Regions from separate parts of the Homo sapiens genome. Here region 2 is linked to region 1. The links come from fine-mapping of genetic effects on gene expression. A gene starts in region 1. The other region holds a variant in brackets. All regions are shown on one strand. Distances are between the middles of the regions. Region 1 holds the start of SEMA4G (semaphorin 4G). Region 2 holds the start of LZTS2 (leucine zipper tumor suppressor 2).

Region 1 (11,186 bases):
CCCAAGTGATACTCCCACTCAGCTTCCCAAGTAGCTGGGACTACAGGTGCACGCCAGCATACTTGGCTAATTTTTGTATTTTTTTTGTAGACAGATCTCGCTGTGTTGCCAAGGCTGATCTTGAACTCCTGGACTCAAGTTGTCCTCCTACCCTCAGCCTCCCAAAGTGTTGGGATTACAGATGTGAGCCACCGCGTTCAGCCTACTTATTGCCATTTTGATTATTTGGGATCCCAGAGGAGATGAAGATGCCACTGCGGGACAAACTAGTAGGCCACCAGATGGTTGAATTAGAAGTACTGTGCCCAGATGCCGGGGGCAATGGCTTACATCTGTAATCCCAGCACTTTGGGAGGCTAAGGTAGGGGGACTGCTTGAGGCCAGGAGTTCAAGACCAGCCTGGGCAACATAGCAAGACCCTGTTTCTACAAAAAATAAAACACTTAGCTGGGCGTGGCATGTGCCCGTGGTCCTAGCTACTCAGGAGGCTGAAGTGGAAGGATCCCCTGAGCCCAGGAGTTTAAGGCCACAGGGAGCTATGATCATGTCACTGTACTCCAACCTGGATGACAGAGTGAGATCCGACCTCAAAAAAAGAAAAAAAAAAAAATGCTGTGCCCATGGCTTGCCACTCTGGCAATACTTACAATGTTTACTGTGGTTGCTGAGATTGACTGGCAGGTCTGTACCTACCCATCTGTGTCCCCAACAATCCTGGCATCCCTGATTGAGGAAGAAGGGGAGGAAAGGAGCTGGGGACAGGGCAGACCACATACCTGGTTGTTTTTCCCTTTTTGATGACATTTGCTTTGCATCTCTGGGGAGGCTTCCCAGTGGATCTAGTGGAGGCAAAGGGAATAGGCTGATGCACTGACCCCAATACCTATTACTCATAGGACCAGGCAATAGGACCCCACAGAGTTGGGGAAATTGGGGTGGGGATCAATTTCAGGAGGAACACTGAATGCAAGGAACACCTGGGCTGGGAAGGGCAGTGCTGTCTGACCAGGGGGCTATGGAAGGCTGGCAGGGTTTTAAGGAAGTTGAGGTCCCAGGGAGCTGGATAAGCATAGAGACCCTCTGGGTGGTCCAGGTTCCAGGGCCTGACCTCTTTGTGAGCCCCATCTCCTATGTCGTTGGCACTGAGAGAGAACAGGGCACCTCGGGCTCCCACCAGCAGCCTTGCTGAGGCCTCCTCCAGCAGCAGTGTTGAGTAGTTCTGGGCTTGGCCCTTGAAGTGCCGGGTCCCAGAGAGCTCTGGGGAGAGCAGGAACAGTGAGCCCTAGTTCTGGGGTGCCTCCCCACCCCCAGCCCTGGCTTCTGCTGCCTTTTGAGGTTGAGGGTCTAACCTTCATAGGGTATGGTCATCCGAGGGGTGGCATCTAGTTCTCTAGACGGTCTCCGCAGTGAGGGTCCTGGGACTGCAGTTGCTGTGAGGATGCTGAGGAGGAGGGGCCAGAGCCTCCCCCACATCTTCCTGGGGAGGCCCAGACTAACAAGACCCCCAAAGGGAGCCAGAGTCACAGGTTGTGGGGGCGGGGAATGGGAAGCACAGTCACAGGGGTCAAAGTCCAAGGAAGTCACTTGGAAGGTCAGGGGTCATAAGGTCATAGGAGTCAAGGAATCATGGGGCCATGGGGGGTCCTGGAATCGGGGGGACATGGAGTCACAGGGTTGTGTGGCCATGGAATCCCCAGCTAAGAGGTCAGAAGGAGGGAGGGATCACATGCCTTTCTGCATCAAATGCAAACTCCATGGTGAGAGGGAGTTGTGAAGTTCTAGAGGGGTTGTAGGTTACTGATGGGGTCACCCTGCCCCCGACAGTAGAGCTAGTCCTGGTTTTCTGAGGTCCGTTTTCTGAAGAAAAAACGGGGAAAAAAAAGCCCTTTGATCTGTATGTGGGTGGAAGATGGATGGCGTTACCCAGACTTCAGGGGGCACTGAAAGAAGGAGGCCCAGCATCCACAGAACGCCCACGCCAGGATCGACTCACAATCATTCTGTCTATCGCTTTGCTCTGATGCAGGAGGCTGGGGTGGAACTTACCTTCCTTACAAGACCCTAGATGCCCACAACCCGAAACCCAAGGTCATGACCCTCTTCTGGCCAAGTCAGAAGCTCCACTAGGCCCTCAAGTCAAAGGAGCTGGGGTTCTTGGAGAGAATGCCTGCTTCTCCCAACAATGAGATGCAACTCGGTCAGCAGCTGCCCCTGCTGCCTGCGGGGGTGCCTTATGCAGGAGGGCCTAACCAGAGAGGTTTAATGGACCTTTGTTTATTTTGTCCTGCTTTCCCTTTGTTTTTTCTTTTCCCTGGCCTGAGAGCTCCCTCTGGAATTTCTCTTTAATTATAACTTCTTGGTATTCCTCTCCAAGGGGGTGCACATCTCTGCCCACGCCAGTCTGTATTGCACCCTCTGGCTAGGCATCCACACGTGTCCCTATCTGCAAGTAGGCATTCACAGGCATTGGGGTGGGTACCTAGGATCCCCCTGGTTGCACAGGTATAATGTCTGTGCAGAAGGCTGTAGTGTGCAAGGCCAGTTGAGACATAAGCAACGTGAAGAAGGTAAATGATGGGATCCCTGAGCCCTTGGCCCCTCCCGACACATCTTGGACCCTCCCTCAAGCCAACCAGTTGGGGATGGGATGGGGGTGGGTGGCAGGCCTCTCCCAACCCCTGTAACAGGCCTCCTAATCACCAAGGGGTTCCTTGAAGAGTTCCTGGGCTGGGTGAGGTGTGGAGAGACCTAATACATTCCATCTCATCAGCCACCCACAGGCAGGGCCAGAGGGTGCCACTGGTGCCTCCTCTCCCAGGTCAAATATTAACTATCTGGCCTTGGAAAGAGGGGAGGAATCAGGAACTGGCCAGAGGGATAACAGGAGCAATTATTCAAGAGGTAAAGGTCAGCACTGCAGGGGCAGAGCCCTGAGGGGTAGAGTCAAATATGAAAGGGAGAGAAGAGGATTCCCTGACCCTGAAAGGGCATAGGCTCCCTGTTTGGGATCTGGGACAGCAGGAAGCTTCAGGCAAGCCGGCCATGCCCCACCCCTCCCTGTGGAGGCACACCTGTTTACCTTTGGGACCTCCTATTTGCTCAGTGCAAAAGGCATGTGTGTGGGGAGCACTATGGCTAGGAGGAACATGCCCCAGGTTAGAGGAGCCACTCAGTGTGGTGCATGTCACACTTATAGTTTAAGAGTCACATGGGTGACTATTAGGAAGGTGATATACATGCACATGGGTGCACACACACACACACACACATGTTCACAAGGAGGACTGTGAACACGTGGATTCACAGGGGTCATTCACACATATACTCACAGGGAGTTTTGTGCACACATATGCTCATACAGAGGGCCACAGCCACAGGTAATCATACATATTCACATGTGACGTTGAATTTACATGCCCATCCATTCAGCAGGTCACACAGCCTCAGACATTGAGGAGAGATAAACCCACACATGTGGGTTTGTGTCAAGGACTGTGCACCTATTCAACAGGAGGGTCCTATACATACACATGTATGTGTAGGGACATGCACACAAACCCATTGATATAGTGGGCCAGGCAATCATGTTCACAGAAGGGTCAAGTACATGTGTGCTCACACGCAGTTCTTGAACACACAACTACATCCATGCAGAGACAAGCACACATGCATACAGGGGTCCAGTTTTTGCCATAGGCTTGGAGGCTGCCAGTGTCCACTGGGGTGAGATGCAGAGCAGAACCCTGCCTCTGTTCCTGAAAGTCCCAATTCTAAGGCCCAATTTCAAGTGTGTGTTTGTGTGTGGGGGTGGTGAGGGGGTTGTGTGTGTGTGTGTGTGTGGTGATGGGGGAGGCTTCTGACCTTGGATGGGCAGATGGGATGGGTGCATGAGTCAAGGCCGCTCTACAAGGGAGGGAATGGGAAAGTAACTCAGGCAGGAGGAGGCCCCTAGCTTCAGCAAAGATGGAATGGAACGCATAATTTAGTACTCCTCCACCCCTATGTATATTGCGGTTCTAAAGGTGGGAGACGGGCTGGAGCTCTCAGCCCCCACTTAACCTGTGGGAGGGGGCGGGGCTAAGTGGGCGGGGCGGAGCATATCACCCCTCCCTTCAGTGGCGAAGTACGGGTTTAAGGTCTCCAGTCCACGCCCCACACTCCACCCCAAGTTCCACAGTTCGGGTTCTTCCCCAGGGCCAGCCCCCTGAACTCTGATCACCTTTCCTCTATTAGATCTTGGGGTGGAGGGAACTGGGGAGGAGAGACCCTTCAAACAGGATCAATGGAGGATCAGCAGGCTCTCGACCTTCATCCCAGATGTCCACCTGCCTAGTGTAGGCGGTATTTCCCTCTGCCTAGTAGGATGGCGGTCTCTCCTGGCTTGAGAGAGCCCCTCCCCCGGGACCCCCTCCCTCCAACATCCTGGACAGTCCGCGGTCCTCTCCCTTCGTCAGGTCTAACCTCAGTCTCTACTGCTGCAGCTCGAGGACAAGCTCTCCTTCGATCCCGCCGGACGCCGGGAGACGTGACCCAGATCCTGGGGAACACTGTTCGCCACGCGGCCCCCTCCCCGCGCTGGTCCCCGACTCCGTGGTGGCCGGTTTGCACCCCGCGCAGCCCGAGGCCTGGCCCGCGCCCCTCTAGAGCCGTCATGCAGGACCGGGGGACTTGGTGGTGAGAAAGGCCTGGCCCAGCTTGGAGGGTAGAATGGACGTGGGGGAGGCCTTGCCCGACCCCCGGCCCGCAGCCCCAGGCTCACGCCAGGGCGCCGCCCGCACTCCTCGCCTTGCTCACCTTTGCGCTCGGATCCGGGGCCATAGAGACAGCGACGCGCGGCTCCGCGGCCCCACAGCACCAGCTGCGAGAGGAAGGGGCCGCGGCTGGAGGCGGGGCGGGGGGGGGGTGGTGGAGGCGGAGCCGGGGGTGGGGCGGGGTCCTGAAAGGCGGGGCCGACTGGGTGGGGTGAGGGGAAGGTCGCCACTCTCTTCTTTGCGCCCCCTACTCTAGCACAATAGAGGCGGTTTGAGGGCGAGGCTCACACACAGCCTTCGGCCATCGGGCGACCCCCCACCTCTAGGCGCTGCGGCCCTGAAATCGCCCCCTGGTGGTGGCCTCGCCACCCCGTGCACCCTCCACATGCTTATAGCCCGTCCTCTCCTCCGCTGTAACCCTAGGACCCCCCTGACTTGCCTACTGCTGGGGACGTGCAAACCTGTCCTGGCGTTGCGGGGTTGGGGGACCCTCTCGGAGGGCCTTCTGGCCTGTCCTCTAACCTGGACCTCACTCCCTGTGCTCCTGCCACCCGCTTCTGCTCTCGGCCTAGGGTGTGGAGGGAAGGCTACCCTAGGTGGCGACTGGACGTTAGGGAAGCTCTGAACACAAGGTAGGGGCTTGATTCCCAGCTTCAGGGGCTGTTCAGCTTGAGCTATGCGTGGGGGAGATGGGGTCAGGCCTGAAGGGGATAAAGTAACAGCCTGACCTGAAAGGCACACAGAAAATGCTTTTTCTGGATAAATAAGCCACAAGCGTTTGCACCTGTTCACTCACCAAATCTTAACCCTAACCTAGGCTCACCTCAGGGACTGGGTCATTCAAACACTTGCCTTCCCCTCCAGCTCATCTTGGGCACCATTCTTATCCAGAACTTAGAGTGCACCCTTCTAGGCAATCAAGTACCCTATCCTTCCCAGATTCAATCACCTTACCCAGCAGCAATCTAGGAAACCCCTCACAATCAACTCCCCAACTCCTTTAACTCAACTAGGATGGTCCTTCTGTGCAAACTTGGTTCCTGCCTCCTTTAATAGGTCACAGCCTATTAAAGTGAACTTAGCCCCTATAGTCCAAACAAAACCTGCATTCAGGCCCTGACCCAGCCTGGTCCTTCCTCCTCCATCCATGACAGTATTCATGTGGGCTCAAGAGATGGACCAAAATGATAAAGGCCACAGGAACATATGTGATTGACTCTTGCATGTGCCTAGGAGTCAGAACAGGATTCAAGTGGCACATTTAACTAAAGGAAACTTGGGAAAGGCTTCATCCTTCTTTCTGGATTCCCCAAAGCTCACAGTTTGGCACTGAATCATATACAATCTCGTAGTTTGGATGGCTGTGTGTGACTGCAGACTGCTAGACAGCAGGGCCCACATCACAGTTCCACCTCCCCCAACACTCTGCAAATAGGATGTGTGTGGCGGGGAGAGGGAAGGTAGCTGGGGAGAAACACAATAAAAAATGTACACACACTTTTACAAAGAATATCCTGCTTCATTTTTTATTTGTACCCTCATCCCATCCTGAGGAATTTATAGCCCCATTTTATGGATGGGGAAACAGGCTCTAAGACATTAAGTAACTTGCCTTGAAGTTCATTCTTGTGTTTATGGAGAGGACAATCAAGACTGGAAAAGTCTGAGAAGGAGGAAGCAGGGTAAGCCAGAAGGGGAAATACCATTGGCAAAGGTAGAAATGTTCAAGCTTATGCACAGGCTTGTGTTGGGGAACTAAGGAAGGGGCATGAAAGAGGGCAGTGAGTTTGATTTGATGAAATGGCTGGGGGGGGGGGGGGGGCGGGGAGGGGTTCCTAGTGGGAAATAAAAGGGAAAAGTCAGCTAGTAGTTTGAAAAAGACCACAGAAGAAAATCCTGAAAGAGATGATGGACTGAGTAAGGACGTCTGAGGTGGGAAGACCAGTCAAGGCAGGGCTAAGAAAGATAAATCTGCAGTCCTTATCAAAAAGTGGGTTGGTGGTAACAGTGGAGGCAGGGTAGGAAGACTGCTGGTCCTTCAGTAGCAGATAGGAGAGCAATTAAACTGTAGGGGCCCAGGGGGCTAAGAGGCACAGCTTCCCAAATGTTCACAGAACCTGCAGTGCTGACTTCAGATAGCTCTGGAGGTGGCGAGTAGGCCAGTGTGGTAGGCTCAGTATCACTCAACTTCACTTTATGAACCAAGCTTTGCTCCTCTGAGGTGCTGATGGCAAACTCAGACATTGTTAAATGAGCAAAATGTGTGATTTCAATGATCACTGGGCAGTTACTTCAGTACTTTTGATAGCAGACCACAATCCATTTCCTTCTGCTAGCCTCCCAGTAAAATCTCTAAACCTAATGAGAGTATCAGATGTAAAAGCAATTAATGGAGCTGCCCATAGGAAGCCCTTTTGATTGACAGTATGTCTCTCTGCAAATCCAGCTGGTAAAATAAGAACGGGGGAATACTGACAGACAGTGGAAAAGAAAACTGGAAATCAACTAAAGAAATTAACCCTAACCCAGCCATAAATCTGCATCCTGGGACACAGGCAGGTCATTCTTTGAACAGGCTGTCACTCATCCATAAGGTCACTACCCTGGCTGCTTCGCAGGGTGGCTGTGAGAGGATTCCATTTGGAAACCTTCTGGAGAACTTCACACACACAGAAAAGTATGAGTTTTGTTTTTGCTAGTCTATTTTCCCCAACTTTGCTGTAAGAAAGTGGCTGAGGGTAGTGCTGGCCGTCTTCAGCAGTGATTGTCAGCCACTTACACACCAGAGTTTAGCTCCACTTTGCACAGAACAGTTACTTACTGTAGCAGGGATCCTAGGTGAAGGGGGTGGGTATGAATTCCTGAAACTTGAGCAGGTTCCCTGAAGCAAGAGAACTCTGGCCTAGTCAAGTTGTCCTGCTTACTGTTCAATGTGGCAGCATTTCTGTTCCTGCTTTGCCATCTCCATCTCTGGTTTGCCCAGCACTTTCCCTTTAGGTGGTGTGGTCTTTATTTTGGCTATATATACAGCTGAGGTGCTTCTTCTGTAGGGGCTGTCACCAGTGCAACAATGCGGAAGTCTCACTATTCCACTGTGCCTCAGAAGCCTGTTTAGTTTTCCTCCCAGCCAGTCGTCTTGGAGTCAGACCCAAAGCTGGGCCTTCTGGTTTGCCCTCTCTTGACTCCAGCCTAGGGAATGGTTAGTAAGGGAAAGGGAGTGTCAGGACATTCCCACAAATGCTGGAAAACCACCACCCATCACCAATTTCTCAGCTTTAGCATGCTGGCTTTTAAAAAGTGAAAATTTTAATTAAAAAAAATCAGCAGAGATAGCTGGACAGAGAAGCTCCAGCTCCCGGTATCCAAAGAAATAGGGCACACTTACAACTATAATTTTTGGAGATATGGTTTGCTCAGATGTCAGTACACCCTGAGGTGTCTGCTTAAGATCAAATCTGTCATCAGAGAAACGCCTCGTTAGAGCAGCAAGCATTTGCTGAGTTCTTGCTATATGCCAGGCACTGTACTAGGCACTTTTCATGCATTAGCTCGCTTAGTCCTCACAAACCCTGAGGTAGACACCATTATTCAACAGATGAGGAAACAGTGAGTTTAAGTAATTTGGCAAAGATCAAAAGGCTAGTATGATGAATCTGGGATCTGAGGTCAGGCCTTGGGGCAAGGTCAAGGCCCTTAACTTGCATAAAGCTGTGCTGCCTGCCCTCTAGTAAGTACTTACGGCAATGTCTCTGCTTCTTCCTGGGCTGTCATCCCCTCATCCCTCCGCCCCACTGTCAGAGAAAAATGCTCCCATTTAGTCTCTTTCTAGCCAGCCTGTCAGAAGGCAGAAATACTGGCATGGTTTTGGAACTCAAGGCCTCTGACAATGCCAAGGCCTTCTATGAGCTCCAAAGTTCCTCCTATGAGGTTTCAACCTCTGCCTCCCAAGTTGGCATACCCAGATCTCTATCTGCTTGGCAGGTTGGAGGTGATCTCAAGCCCTGCTTCTGCATTGTACAGCTTCTTCTTTCTTGGTCCTGGGCTCAAGAACAAGGGAGTCAGGTTAAGGGTATTTGTTTCTAATTCTCTTTGCCCAAGAACAGAAAGTATTTTAACCTGGATACCAGGAGGTAAGATTCATGAGTTCTCTATGTTGTTCACCATCAAATCCTTACTGAATCCTAAAAAGAGTGCCTAGTATGTAGTTGAGACTCAATTGTTAGAATGAATGGTGGAATGAACATAGTGAATGAGGTAAGAATGAGATTACTGAATTCCTGATTGCAAAGTATACAGCAATTAACTGGGTTATATAAAAGTGAACTGTGTACAATGGTGGCTTTATGTTTTCCAGAAACAGGAGACATCAAGCTAAAAAACTGGACAATCCAAAGCAAGAAGAAATGTTTAAAAGCCAGGGGACTGGGGTGGGCTGAGGGAACAGGGCATTCCAGATAACTTAGCCTCCCCAACTCCCAAACAAATATTACCAAACACATGTTCAAACTGAGAAAAAGCAGTTTTAATAGCACACACACACACACATTCATAGGACTTTAACAAGATGTAGTATAAAATCTTTAAAAAAAAAAAAAAGGAAAGAAAAAAATCTGTATTTACTTCCTAAGAGCTGGTGGATTAACTGGCTGACAGGACTGCCCAGGAAAAACAAATGCACAGATAATGAGGTGCGCCGACACTGTTCATGAGTAAGGAATAACCATGGATCATGCTAACTGCTCTACGTGCCCCGCCGCCTGGACCCTACTGTTGCCTCCTTAGCGACAAACCACCACAGTCATCCCCTAATTCTCCAACTCAGTAGCTTGTTTAATGGGCTACCTCTTAAAATTTTCATTTTTAATTTAAAAATTACTCTTGGCTTAAAGACGCCACACATTATTACTGGCCAGTCCCCACCAATTATATTTGTTTTGATAAAAATAAAAATGCAAATACTCCAACTAAGCCTGGATGATAACACGCCATTTTGTATCTTTTACATTTGAGGAGATTTTTGTGAAGCTGAAAGCAAGCTACTATTTGCGCTTGAAAGCAGAAACAAAATGCAAACCTTCCAAAAGGTGACAAAGGCACCACTGCCATCAGGAGATAGAAAATGTACAAATGCTGTTACTTTACGGCTACATCAATGCATTTTGTGCATGGAGAGCCTCTTAATGTGATAAAACTAGTAGAATTATATTTTCAGTAACAAGAAAAGCAGTTAGAAAAGGCAAACAGTTACACACAAAAGCATAAACACTTACAAGTACCTTAATGTGCAGCTTGCAAGAAGGGTAATAAGTTTGCCATACATATCCATAAAATTAGACAAGGTGATTTTTGGCACAGTAATATTGCCAAACACACCACCACTCAGTGCAAGCTTCGTTTGCCAAGTCCCCAAAGTGGCCTGACATTCTCTGTGCAATGAACATTTCTCCCTCTCTACCATCCCATTCACCGGGCAATAGCAGCAGGAGGGAGACAAAGCATGGGGACTCAAGGGAGAAGTAAAATACTTGATTTGGAAGAAAAACCATGGGCTACTTGTGCTAAAAGAGAGTCACAAAGTTTTCATGAGAACCCAAATGCAAATACTGACTGGACTATGACCTGGAGTCTGAAGACCTCTACCAGAGTCATAAATACAAGGGCCTAAACTGAGGTCTGGCCATTTATTTTAGAGGGACCATGAAGTATTTTTTTTCTAAAGGAGAAATATAATTAAAAATAGAGATTTTTTTCTTATTGGAACTGTTAAATAAAAATGTATCAAAGTGGTTTTAAATTTGATGGACAGTTATCTGTTGAAACTGCAATACAAAAGGGTCATTAAAAAAAAACCTGAATAACCCACTTGTCCCCCCCATCAATGTACACAATTAGAAAATATTTACACACTGTAAATTACAAGCAATATAAGCAGTATTTTATACTTTGAGATTTTGTACACTTTACACAATGCAAAATGAGAAAAATATGAACACGTATAAAATTACACACAAATAATGTATCTACAAAGGATTAAATTACAGAACGAAAGCCCCCATCGTTGGGCAGATAGATGCCAGAGTTTCAAGCTTCTGTCAAATAGAACTCTTTGTATCTATCTCTTTAACCATAAGTGGCATTTTGTAACAATACCCTTGAGAGGTAGTATCAAGATAATAATATTCTTACCAGTAAACAACACAGAATAAAACTTTTGTTGGTCTGACTCTTGGAGCCTCAATCAGTTTAGGTTCTTGGAAACTGGATTTACTTAGTCTTCCCTATAAAATCTCTGACTGCCAATGCTTGATTGACATGAGCTCAAAAGTTACTGATGCTATTTTAAATGATAAATTTAGGACAAAATGCTTTTTACTCCTAAGCCTCAATTTAGAGGTAGAAAGTTATTTTATTTTCTTGCCTCTCAAACCGCAAACA
Region 2 (11,186 bases), 31 kb before region 1:
AGCTGAAATCACGCCACTGCTCTCTAGCCTGGGTGACAGAATGAGACCTTGTCTCAAAAAATAAAAAAAGCAAGCACTTGGCCGGGTGCAGTGGCTCACGCCTGTAATCCCAGCACTTTGGGAGGCCGAGGCAGGTGAATCACTTGAGGCCAGGGGTTCGCGACCAGCTTGGCCAACATGGTGGAAACCCTGTCTCTACTAAAAATAAAAAATAATAAAAAATTTTAAAAAAGGCAAGCATTTATATAGCACTTCCTAGGTACCAGGCATTAGTCTAATCACTTTACACCTTTTGCCTTATTTAATCCTCATAATAATCCTACGAAGCTAGAAATATCCCTATATAGATGAAGAAATAAAGGCTGAGTAAAGTTAAGCAACTTGCTCAAGCCCAAAAACTAGTATTTGGCAGTGGGAGGTTTGAATCCATGCACTCTGACTCCTTTCCACCCCACAAGTTTTGTTTTTTGTTTTGAGATAGAGTCTTGCTCTGTCGCCCAGGCTGGAGTGCAATGGTGGAATGTCAGTCCATTGTAACCTCCTCCTCCTGGGCTCCAGTGATCCGCCCACCTCAGCCTCCCAAGTAGCTGGGACTACAGGTACATGCCACCACACTTAGCTAATTTATTTTTAGTAGAAATGGGGTTTCCCCATGTTACCCAGGTTGGTCTCAAACTCCCGAGCTCAAGCAATCCGCCCACCTCGGCCTCCCAAAGTGCTGGGATTACAGATGTGAGCCACCACACCTGGCTACTCCACACATTAAACCAGACAACTGGTGGGGAGGGCAGGGGGGTCACAACTACAACTACCCAACCCCCGTTCCCTGCCAAAATGGAAATGCCGCTTGCATCCCAGGGCCTTGGGATGTCCTGCCATGCCCCTTCCCCATCATTGCCTCTGACCACACCTGGCACATGGTAGCCTCATTCTCGTCCAGACTGTCCCGCAGCTGCTGAAGCTCTGCCTCCCGGTCTCGGAGCTTTCCTTCCAGGACACAGTGCAGCAGGGCCTCATCCGAAGGAGGTGGAGGCGGGGGTGGTGGTGAGCGCTCCCCACAGGAGCTGCTGTCAGGGGAGGCCCGAGTACCACTGCCCAAAAGCCCCCCAGCCACACGGCCCCCTAGGGAGCCTGTGCTCTTGCTGGAGGAGGACCGGCCACTGTCTGAGTGGGAGGGCCCAGTAGGGACCCCTCGGGCTGGCCCAGGCAGTGCCCCTCGCCCAGAGCCATGGGAAGGCAGGTGCCCGCCTGGGGAGCTGGTGGTTGGCTCGGCACCTCCGGTGCTGTAGGTGGGCAGGCTGGACAGTGAGTTTCGGCCAGAGTCGGATAGCGTCCCTGATGGGCAGCCACTGGCCCAGCCACTAAATGCCAGGGGTTTGTCAGCAGCTGAAGAGGAGGAGGAAGAGGAGGAGGAGGAGGCAGGGCCCCCAAACAGCTGCGTCAGGCTGCCCTGGCTCCCAGACAGCCCGGTGGCCCGAGGACCCATGAAGCTAGGCAGGGACGGAGCCCCTCGAGGTTTGGGCAGCACTGGCTTGAAGGCTGTTGGGCGGATCAGGATCTTCTCCATGTTCTGAAATGAGGTGCCATGTGACACTGGAGATGAGCTGCCCAATCTTGCAGAGCCCTTATGACACTCCCTGCCCTCCCGTCTTGGGTCCCCAGTGCCCATATATTCATAACAATTGCGGCCACTGGTGGAGGTGGCCACCAGTGTCAGCTTTGTGTCAAGCAATTTGAAAAGTTTATCTCCATTATCTAAATATGATCACTATCCCCATATTACAGATGAGGAAATGGAGGCTCAGCAAGGTTAAAGGCCTTGCCCAAAGTCAAACGTATAACTGGTGCAGAATAACCAGAACGTAAGCAACTAGCACTTACTGCGTACATGCTACGTGCTAGGCACTATGCTATACATTATTTGACCTTCATGTCAGTTCTAGAAACTGAGGCTCAGGTTAAGTGACTTCCCTGAGGTCACACATCCAGAATGAGAGAGAGCTGGGATTAGGACCCAGGTCTGGTGAATCTGGAGCCCACACTCTTTCCTCTATATAAGCTTCTAAATTCCAGTTTCCCAAGCGAGGACTCCCGTTCTACCCAGGCCCACAAGGAAGAGCCGGTCCTCACCTTCTCCAGCTTTCCAGAGACAGGGATGAGCTTTGGTGGTGGGCCGCGGAGGTGGGCATTGTGTGCCCGCTGCTCTCGGGCATCCTCAACATCACTGCTTGGGCTGGGGGGTGACTCTGTCCGGAAGTCCTCATTGATGTAGGTGAAGCTGGTGACAGGGACAGCCTTCCTAGGGGGCACAGCTGGGCACAGCGGCTCCTGTGCCTCATAGCCACCCCGTAGCAGGCCATCCTGCTGGCGGAAGAAGGTGGGCCCAGGAGGGCCGTGGTGGCGGGGAGGAGCTGGCCCCCCGGGACAGGGCCGGCCTGAGATAAGGCTGCTCACACTACCCATGACTGGAGCTTGTGGGGCAGTGGCAGCTTCAGGAGCAGGCTCCAGTGGCACTGGCAGAGTCTGCACAATGGCCATGGTGGCAGAGGCTCAGGCCTGGCCAGCGGCCTCGCAGGCGACCTGTAAGCAGGGCAGTGGTGTCAGAGTCCCTCCACCTTGAGACCCCTCCTGACCCACTGATCCTGACCAAACACCTCCTTGACATCAGTAACAAGCCCTGATCCCCACCAAGACTCCCCCTTCAAGTGCTGGAATGAATCTCAATTCCCCCTGGGCCCCAAACCACACTGCCCAATGCTGGTCTGAACAGGGCTGAGGAGTGAATTCACTCAGCAGAGATGCTGAGAGGCATGGGAGGCCTGGATGATTACCGCAGGGCCACCTGGCAGCAAAGACCCAGGCCCAAGCCCAATCCTGCATCCTCCACAGAGGCCAGGACTCAGGTGAGGGAGGGGCCTTCTCTACCAGCTTGAAGCACAGGTCCCTGGTCCTCTCAGCCAGGTGGCCTCATTACAGGGCAGTTTGGGCAGAGGTACCTCAGGGGTGCAATCAGCACCTCAGATGGTAATTAGGGAACAAAGAGCCAAGGCCAGGCAGTGCCCTGCCTCCCTCTGCTGGGCCTCAGTTTCTCTCAGACAGAAAGGCGGCTAAACTGCCTCTCTGTCGATCTGGCTAAATAAGAAACCCGCGGCTCTTAGGGAGTCCACAGGTGTCCTTTGGGGTCTCCTGCCTCCCAGAGGTGGATGCAGGCTCATACCAGTTTCCATGACAACTCCTAGCCTCTGCACACCCAATCGGTGAGGCCTGAAGGCCTGAAGGAGCCTCCACAGGCTCTGCCCCACTGCCAACCTCTCTGAAACCCTACAGCTTCAGAAGGTCCCCAAACTAACCCTGAGGGGAGGAAGGTAGATGCCCTGCCTTCACCTCTGGAGGCTGCTCCAAAACCTCACTTCCACAGAGCCCAGGCAAGAGGGCTCCACCTCCCCAGGCTCTGCTCCTTCCTGGAAGCAGCTGCAAGCCTCCACCCGGAACCCCCTCCCTAGTCCCAGTCCCGAGGCCGCTGATGACCAGGACTTAGGCATCTGCTGAAGTCATCATGCAGAGCGGGGCCAAGAAGTGGACAGAGAATTGCACTGGGAGTAGGAGTGTGTGCATTTAGTTATTTGTTGTGTGACTACATGCACAGGAGCATGAAAATGAACACGTGTGTATGAAAATGTGTGTGAAAACATCATGTGAGTCTATGCATGTTTGATATATCAGTTCATTCACATACATATGAGTTCATGTGTGAATTCACATGTGTATATCTTAGAAGAGTATGTGGATCAGGGGTCATTAGAAAGCCTGTGAAAGTTATAAATGTGGATCTAACAAGTGAATTTGTGGTGTGTGGGAGAGACGGTGCCTGGACAGACTTGTCAGTAAGTTCATGAGTTTATGTGTGAGCTCCTGTGTTTGTGTGTGACTAGGAAGGTGAGTGGTGCAGTGGAGCCTGTGAACGTGGGCACGCAGGTATGAGAGTGGTGGGAGCCTGGGTGGCTTGAGGGCCCATTGGTGGGGGGAGCCTGTTTCCTTCTCTCTTCGGCGTGTGGGGAGAGGTGGGACATTATCTAACTCCTTTGCCTGATCTGTTCCCCTTCTTTCTCGCATGCCCTCCATTAAATCCACCGCCCTCCTTCCCACCCAAGTCAAAAGACACTGCGAACCAGGAAGAGGTGTCCACGCTGGGGCAGGAGCTGCGGGGAGCTGGGGGAGGGGTAGGCCAGGAGCAGGGAGTGACCACAGGCCCCTCTGTAGGGCTGGGGCTCAGACCACCCCACACACCCCAGCCCCCAGCAGAGCAGATAGAGAACCCCCTCCCCTCCCCTCTCTGGGCCCACTCCAGGGTGTGGAGTGAACAGTGGGGAAGGGACTTCTTAGGGGGCCAAGGGGGCTGGCACCTCTGTTGCATTTCCCCACTTCAGCGAGCACGGAGAAAGTGAAAATTGAAGGAAGGAGACAGGCTCAGAGAAAGACAGGGACCCAAAAGAGACAAAGACTCGGAGAGGCCCGAGGGTCAGGCCGACAAGGGGACAGCCAGCGGGACCCAGTGAGCCAGGGCCCCCCAACCCCACGGAGCCGAGGGCCCATAAGTCCAAAGTGCCACAGAGCCGGGCCCTGAGAGCCACACATCCAGGGAGCCAGAGCCAGGAGTCTGGAAAGCCAGGCCCAGCCAGGCCGGCTCCCGCTCTTGGAGCCCGAAAGAGAAGGAGGGGCAAGTGGAGGCTCCATTTTGAGAAATGCGTTTGTGGCTGTGGGAGATGGGAACCCCTCATTCTCCCCAGCACTCCCTGAGCAATCACTCTGGCCCAGGAGCACCCCCCTTTTAGTGGGCTGAGGAGAGCAGAGGGCTGGAGCTGGTTCAGGGCCGGAGACGGATCTGAAGAGTTGGGGAAAGTCTCCCTCCCACCCAAACTCCAAGGACCAGTCAAGCGGGGTCAAGTCTGCGATCACGAGTTCCCATTCTGCGGCGGGAAGCCAGGAGCCCCTGACCCATTCTCCAGAGTCCAGCCCCCCTTCCAGAAAGTGGGGGCGACTGGGGAACGCCGTCCCCCCGGCTGGATTCCACCGCGCA[T/G]AAGTTGGGGGCTCCCCAGGCCGCCTCCCAGACCCGGCCCCCCTCACCTCCGCCGCGCTGCTCCATGCTCAGCCCCAGGCCGCCCCCAGCGCTCCACAGGCGCGCCGCCCGGCCCCGGCTCCGGCTCCGGCCCCGGCCCCGGCCCCGGCCCTGGCCCGCGCGCCGCCACTCGGAGCTGCCCGGCCCAGCCCCGCCTCCGCCTCCGCGGCGCCCCCGGCCCTGGCCAGCCCCCGCCCGGTGCGAGTGGGCGGCACCGCGCAGGGGAGGGTCCGAGGGGCGTCTCCGCCCCGGGGCGCGGACACGCGCAAGCACCCGCGTCACGCGAATCCGCCGGGGCGCACGTAGGGGCTGCTCGGCGGCAGTCGGGAGCCCTCCCTCCGACGCCCTGTGACTGCGTGTCTGGGGGCTCGGTTCGGCTCGACGCGGCGGCGGCGGTGGTCACCCTCAACCCCAGCCGGGGCCCCGGGGCCAGCGGCAGCTGGTCATTGTTCCAGCACAAAGGGCCACGGCGCGGCGGCGGCCGCCCCTCCCCCTCCGCTTCTCCAGGCGAAGCTTCCCTGACACGCTCTCAGCCTCAGAGTCCCAAGCGAGAGGCCGATGGCCGGCCGTCCCCCACTCTCCGGTGCCGGGACCCCGCGCCCTAGCCCGAGTAGGAGGCCGAGGCTCGATCCGCGCCTGCCCCACGGCGGGTTGGAGGCGGCAACCTGGGCTTCGCGGAGGCGACGCCACCTGGCGGCCGGCTCGGAGAACACACCCAGCCGCCCCCAACACGCGGGCCCTGCCCCACTCCCCGGCACGGTGCCCTTTTCCCCGCGAACCCAGGCCGGCCTCTGGCGCGACCGCGTGCTCCCCAGCCTCCCCTCGGGATCACTTGCTAAGAGAGAGGTCATTTATCGGAGAGGAGCGGCCCCTGGCTCCCCAACAATCACTGGGGCGAACCGGTGCAAGCCTACAGCCCAAACCTACACCAGCCTCACGGCAGACAATATTCCACTTCCTCAGGGTCAAGTAGTCTCACCTTCTCGCACACAATACAGTCTCCCTAACACCCACAAGACCTTTCCCACATGCAGCCGCAGTCTCAGCCGTCACGTGGGTCCGCGTTCCTTCTTTCCATAATCTTCCAGTCCACCTCACACACAGACACGGTGTCACAGGCCTGTTGGGCACAGGCTTCCACAACAATCCGCAGTCCTTCGCACCCAGTCACAGTCTCAAGTGCACTTAGTCTCCTAACCATCTTTCACGCATTGACAGCCTCTATTCACAGTCACTCACACAGACAACTTCTTACACGCCGTGCTTCACAAATATTCTACCGCACAGCCTTTCCCCTAGGGGTCTCGGTGACCCGGTCAGGTCAGCTGATGCCTGCATCCCTGGGCAAAGGCAGCCTTTCTCCCCTAACCACCCCCTCCCCCGCAGGGCCAAGGCCTGCCGGAGCTCGCCCGGGCCCCAGGAAGGAGCATCCCCCCCTTCCAGGCCACAGCCCTGGCCGGCTCTCAGCTCTATTTTTAGCTCCATGGACAGGGTTGTTTTTCTTTCTTTTTCCCTGGAAAGGGAAACACAGCCCAGCCACCCTGACTCACCCCAGACCCTCAGCCTCACAAGAACAGACTGAGCCCCTCTCCCCAGCAGAGCCCCCTCCTCTGGCCTTGCCCTGATCCCTGCCTCCTGGGGCACCGAGAGCCTCCTCCTCTTTCTGGCAGCCTGCCCAGCTCAGGCGGCAGCTGGGCTCAGCGTGTGTGTAGGGGTAGGGGGTGGGGCGAGGAGGAGGCATCGGGCTACTGCCCACTCCCTCATTCCCTGGGGGGAGGGGCTCGTCCTCCTTTTTCTAGGGGGGCAGGCCCACTCTGGTATTGAGGGAGCGTTTACACTCATGCATTTTCTGGGGGGAGGAGACTCCGACTCCCGCAAGGAGTGGAGGTGAGGGTAGGAAGGGGACCCGCAGGCGCTCAGGCAGCTGCTCTCTGGGCTGGCGGTAACAGGCGGGGGCAGCTGTCCACTGCCATCAAGGGCCTGTCTCCGAAACCTTCAGGGATGCAGACACCAAGAATGTGCTGGGGAGAAGGACGTCCAGGAGCCCGAGTTAACCCCAGCCCTGCCCAGCAGCCGGGCCCTCCTGCTCCGCCCCGGCTCCAGGGGGCGCTGTGCTCCGGTTCCCGGGAGAGGGCTTATCCCCGCTCCAGGCGGAGAATGGAACGCCGTCCGGCCTGGGACCAAGCAAACGCGCCCCGGACTAGGGTGGATTTCCGCCCCGTGGTTGGGTTGGGGGCACAGGCCACTGGTCTGCGGAGCTGTCACGTGCTCGGCGTCTGTTTACGTCTTGGTCTTCACCTGCGGGAGGCCAGGAAGCAGGAACCTCCGGGTGCGTCCCACCCGGCCCGCCCCCGTCGGTAGTCACAGGGCTGCCCCTTTCCCGCACCCAATACGCGACCGCAGAGTGCCCTGCCCGCTGTGGGTCCGCGCGGGCCGGCTGGCGCTGTCCCTGGGAGTGCAAGGGTGGCCAACTGGGCGCGTCCTTTCCGAGTGCATGTGTGTTCGCGTGTCCCAAGTGCGGGCGTGGGTCTGTGCACGCGTGTGTGGGGCCCGTCGGCGTGCGTTTTCGTGTCACTTCCCTGTTCGGACTCTTCGCGGGGACCCCACCAAGTGCGGACCCCCCTCCTCACCCCAACCCCTAGCTTCCCTAGAAGCGGAAAGTTCGTTCAGGAGCGGGGATGAGCGGGAGGCGGGAGTTCCTGCACCTCCGCCGCCCCACCACTCACCCAGCGCCACCTGCGCCTCGGCTCCAGTTCCGGCCCCGCTCCTGCTCCAGCGCGCCCACCTCCTCGCCGCGACAACGCCGGCTCCCTAGCCGGCTCCGAACTCTAGGTTCCGAACTCTGGGCTCCCGGCTCCCAGCTCCCGGCGCCCGCCTGGCCCGACCTGGTGGAGCGGGGCGGGGCGGGGCGGCTCAGGCCGCGCCCCCCACCCAGGGAGGGGAGTGGTCTGCCCCGCACTCCACCAGCAGCCGACCCAGTGCCCAGCCTAAGAGTGACTCGACGGTGGCCGAGGCTGCCCCTCTGGCCTCTGACTTCACAGCTTACTGGATTTGGTTTTTGACCTGGGGAAGGGGGCGAGCATCACGTGACCGAGAATTCGGCTACCTGGCTGCCTTAAACTAAGCTTAAACTAAGAGCTTGACTCTGCCACCCTCCCTGCTCCGATGGGAGCCCAACCCGGTCCACTCTTGGCCCAATCCCCAAATACAGGGACAACCCCTGGGAAGCAGACAAAGAAGGCTCAAGTTTCACCAGAGCAGCTCCCACCTACCCCTACCACGCACACACCTCAGCGTGGGGCTGCCCAGGCAGAACCAGCACAGCCCCCTCCCTAGAGTAGGTATCTGCCCAGGTGAGCAGGCCTGCGGGTTCTGACCCCCACGGGGCATGGCTGGGCTTCTCGAAGACTCATAAAGTCCCACCCACAGGCACAAACAGGAAGTTGGCCTGTATTGCAGGGAGGCCCCAAGGGCTCCCTCCCACCATGGCACTCAAGGCAGCATGTAGGAAGGTCTACAGGTATCTGGCCCATATGGGCTACAGGAGACCTCGGTGAGTTGTTTTTTGAGACGGAGTCTCGCTCTGTCGCCCAGAATGCAGCGGCACGATCTTGGCTCATTGCAACTTCCGCTTCCCAGGTTCAAGCGATTCTCCTGCCTCAGCCTCCAGAGCAGCTGGGACTAGAGGCGCGCACCACCACGCCCGGCTAATTTTTGTATTTTTAGTAGAGACGGGGTTTCACCATATTGGCCAGGCTGGTCTCAAACTCCTGACCTCGTGATCCACCCGCCTCGGCCTCCAAAAGTGCTGGGATTACAGGCGTAAGCCACCGCACCCGGCCGAGTTGTTTCTTCTTAAACCCATCCACAGCAGAGAGGAAGCTGCCAGAGGACCAAAGCTGTCCCCTCATGGCCAAGTGTGACATACATTATCAATTAGAGGACAAGGCTGTAGATCCAACTGGACCTGGCTTAGCCAGGCCTTTCCTGAGATCTCAGGGAAATTTTTTTTTTTTCCTCCCAATCCACCGAACCTGTGAGTCAGGGAGATTCTTAACATCCAGTTGGGTGTAGACAGACCAGTCCTATCCCAGGGAATCCGCACAGGCCCTAGGGACCCCCCACTGCTTTCTAGAATCCAGGGATCTGAACAGACTGGGTGGAATCATGATATGGGGTATTTAAGGCAGGTATGGAATAGAACGTGTTTGTGCAGCGGGTAGGGCTGGGGGGAGTATTAGCTTCCCCTCCCCCTCATCATTCTGGTTTGTGCTGTGTGGGGGTGTCTGCTAGAAGGGTGGGGCAAGACAAACAGCCAAGTCTGTATCTATCCCTCTATCCCCAGTTCACAGAGACCTCACAAAGGTCCCCTACTGGAAACCCCTAAAAGATCTCCTGAGAACCCACCAGGCATTCTAGGGAGACAGGAATGTGGAACCCACATCCTTACAGGTATGACTGATATGGTATTGTGCCTCTGGAAGGCATGGCTGCCGTTCAGCGTTACAGACTCTGGATGAGGCCTAGACCAGCCAACGGCTGGGAATGATTACTGCGGGATTAGGGAGGCCTGGCTCCAGCCAGTCTGGGAGAGACCCCCAAGAAGGGAGGCCCTGGAGGAGCTCTCCCCACCCCCCCAGGTTCTTCCTCACAGAGAGCAGCTTTCCAGCAGCCTTGCTCCGGATGTTTCAGGAGACATTTGTGACCAGAGTTCTCACACTCCAGAGACCACAGACCCCTCCATCGGCCCCAGAAGCCCCTTCATAGGTTGAAAGGAAGAGCCTGACAAGGCAGCCCTGCTTCCAAACGGAGCAGGAAACCTTCCCCCAACCCTTACAAAAGGATTCTCCCCAGCCCCCTCAGAACATATTGCATTCTCACGACTCTTTCAGGCAAATCCAAAGGGAAACTGGGACTTTGGGATATCAGAGGACGAGAGATGAGAAGGTGTCATCATTTAGGAATACTTCTGACAGTCCCTCTGGGTCACCTATTTTACAGTCTCCTCCACGGCTTGTTAAAAATGAGGATTACTGTACCCGTCCTCAAATCCAGAATGAGAAATGTACGTGGTGGAGGATGGGGGGAGAATGGGGCCTAGTTTCTGCATTTTTCACAAGTCCCCAGGAGTTCTGGCACGCATTAGCATATGAGAAACACGGAGAGGGTACAGGAGGGAGATGGATGGGGGTGGACAGAATATGTTGAGTCTAAGTCCACTTGAGAGGTGAGTGGCTCACATCACAGAGGAATGGCCAGTCAGGCAGGGCACTGGGCTCATGTGGCCCAGTGATGAGTACCTGTGCCAGGAATCACTCGAGATCCTCAGGGAAGTTAGGTATGAGGACAGATCATCTTGTCTTCCCTAGGCCAAGAAGAGATGTAAATGGAAGGTGGGGTGTGAAGGCCCTTTAATGTCCCTGCTTCCTTGGAAGCCCACCGCTCAAAGGCTGCAAGCAGTGGGAGGGGACCCGTCCATTCCCAATCCCGAAAGGGAAATTCAGCTACGGACTGGGGAGACACCTGGTGGATGAATAAGAAAAAGCACAGAAACAAAGGCAATGGAAAAATTTTTTAGTAAAACTGGAAAAGGCTCTATAAAATGTCCTGACTCCAGCAGTCTTGAGGCAGCACACAATGGCATCAGTGTCTAGGTGGCAGGCACTCCGGGCTGACAGCTTCCTTCTATGGCTCTATGACCAAGCAACCCAGCCCGAGGCAGCTCCCACCAGTGAGGCCCTGATATTGCAGGGCTAAGCACCTAGGATCCAATTCTAGTACATGCCACCTCATGCTAGGCTCTACAAAGTGGGGAGCAGAGGAGCTTGGTACCCACTGTATCACCCTTTGACTTTGAAAGCCTAGGCTGGAGTTTCGCATGAAGTCCCCGATTCCCCTCCAGGTTCATGCGGCCTGACCTCACTGCCTTGAATCTGACCTGCTCATTCCTACCTCAGGGCTTGGATTTCCTTTTCTCTCTGCCTGGGTCCCCTTCGCCGGATGTTCACGTGGCTCTCTCCTTCTAGTTGTTTAGGCCCCAGCTCACATGCCCTCGGCTCAGAGACACCTT

Evidence for each region. PIP is the estimated chance that this variant, and not a neighbour inherited with it, causes the effect.
Region 2: its variant is the best candidate, but not a certain one, in a credible set for the expression of SEMA4G in lung (TOPMed, PIP 0.68).

Annotation. Positions count from the first base shown.
Region 1 is chr10:100,963,200-100,974,385 of GRCh38, reverse strand. It overlaps SEMA4G (semaphorin 4G), which reads right to left and starts at 4,882. Exons shown (of 15, transcript NM_017893.4): 1 at 4,795-4,882; 2 at 1,350-1,857; 3 at 1,109-1,257; 4 at 777-839. The coding sequence starts at 1,473. It overlaps SLF2 (SMC5/6 complex localization factor 2), which reads right to left. Exons shown (of 20, transcript NM_018121.4): 20 at 9,252-11,186. RefSeq lists silencers at 4,866-4,925, 8,260-8,554.
Region 2 is chr10:100,993,891-101,005,076 of GRCh38, reverse strand. It overlaps LZTS2 (leucine zipper tumor suppressor 2), which reads right to left and starts at 5,269. Exons shown (of 5, transcript NM_001318100.2): 1 at 5,125-5,269; 2 at 2,131-2,580; 3 at 911-1,570. The coding sequence starts at 2,538. TWNK (twinkle mtDNA helicase) reads right to left here. Exons shown (of 5, transcript NM_021830.5): 5 at 10,674-11,186. RefSeq lists silencers at 5,128-5,507, 5,608-6,017, 7,808-8,097 and enhancers at 8,248-8,377, 8,181-9,050. The variant T/G (reference allele first, on the strand shown) is at 5,078.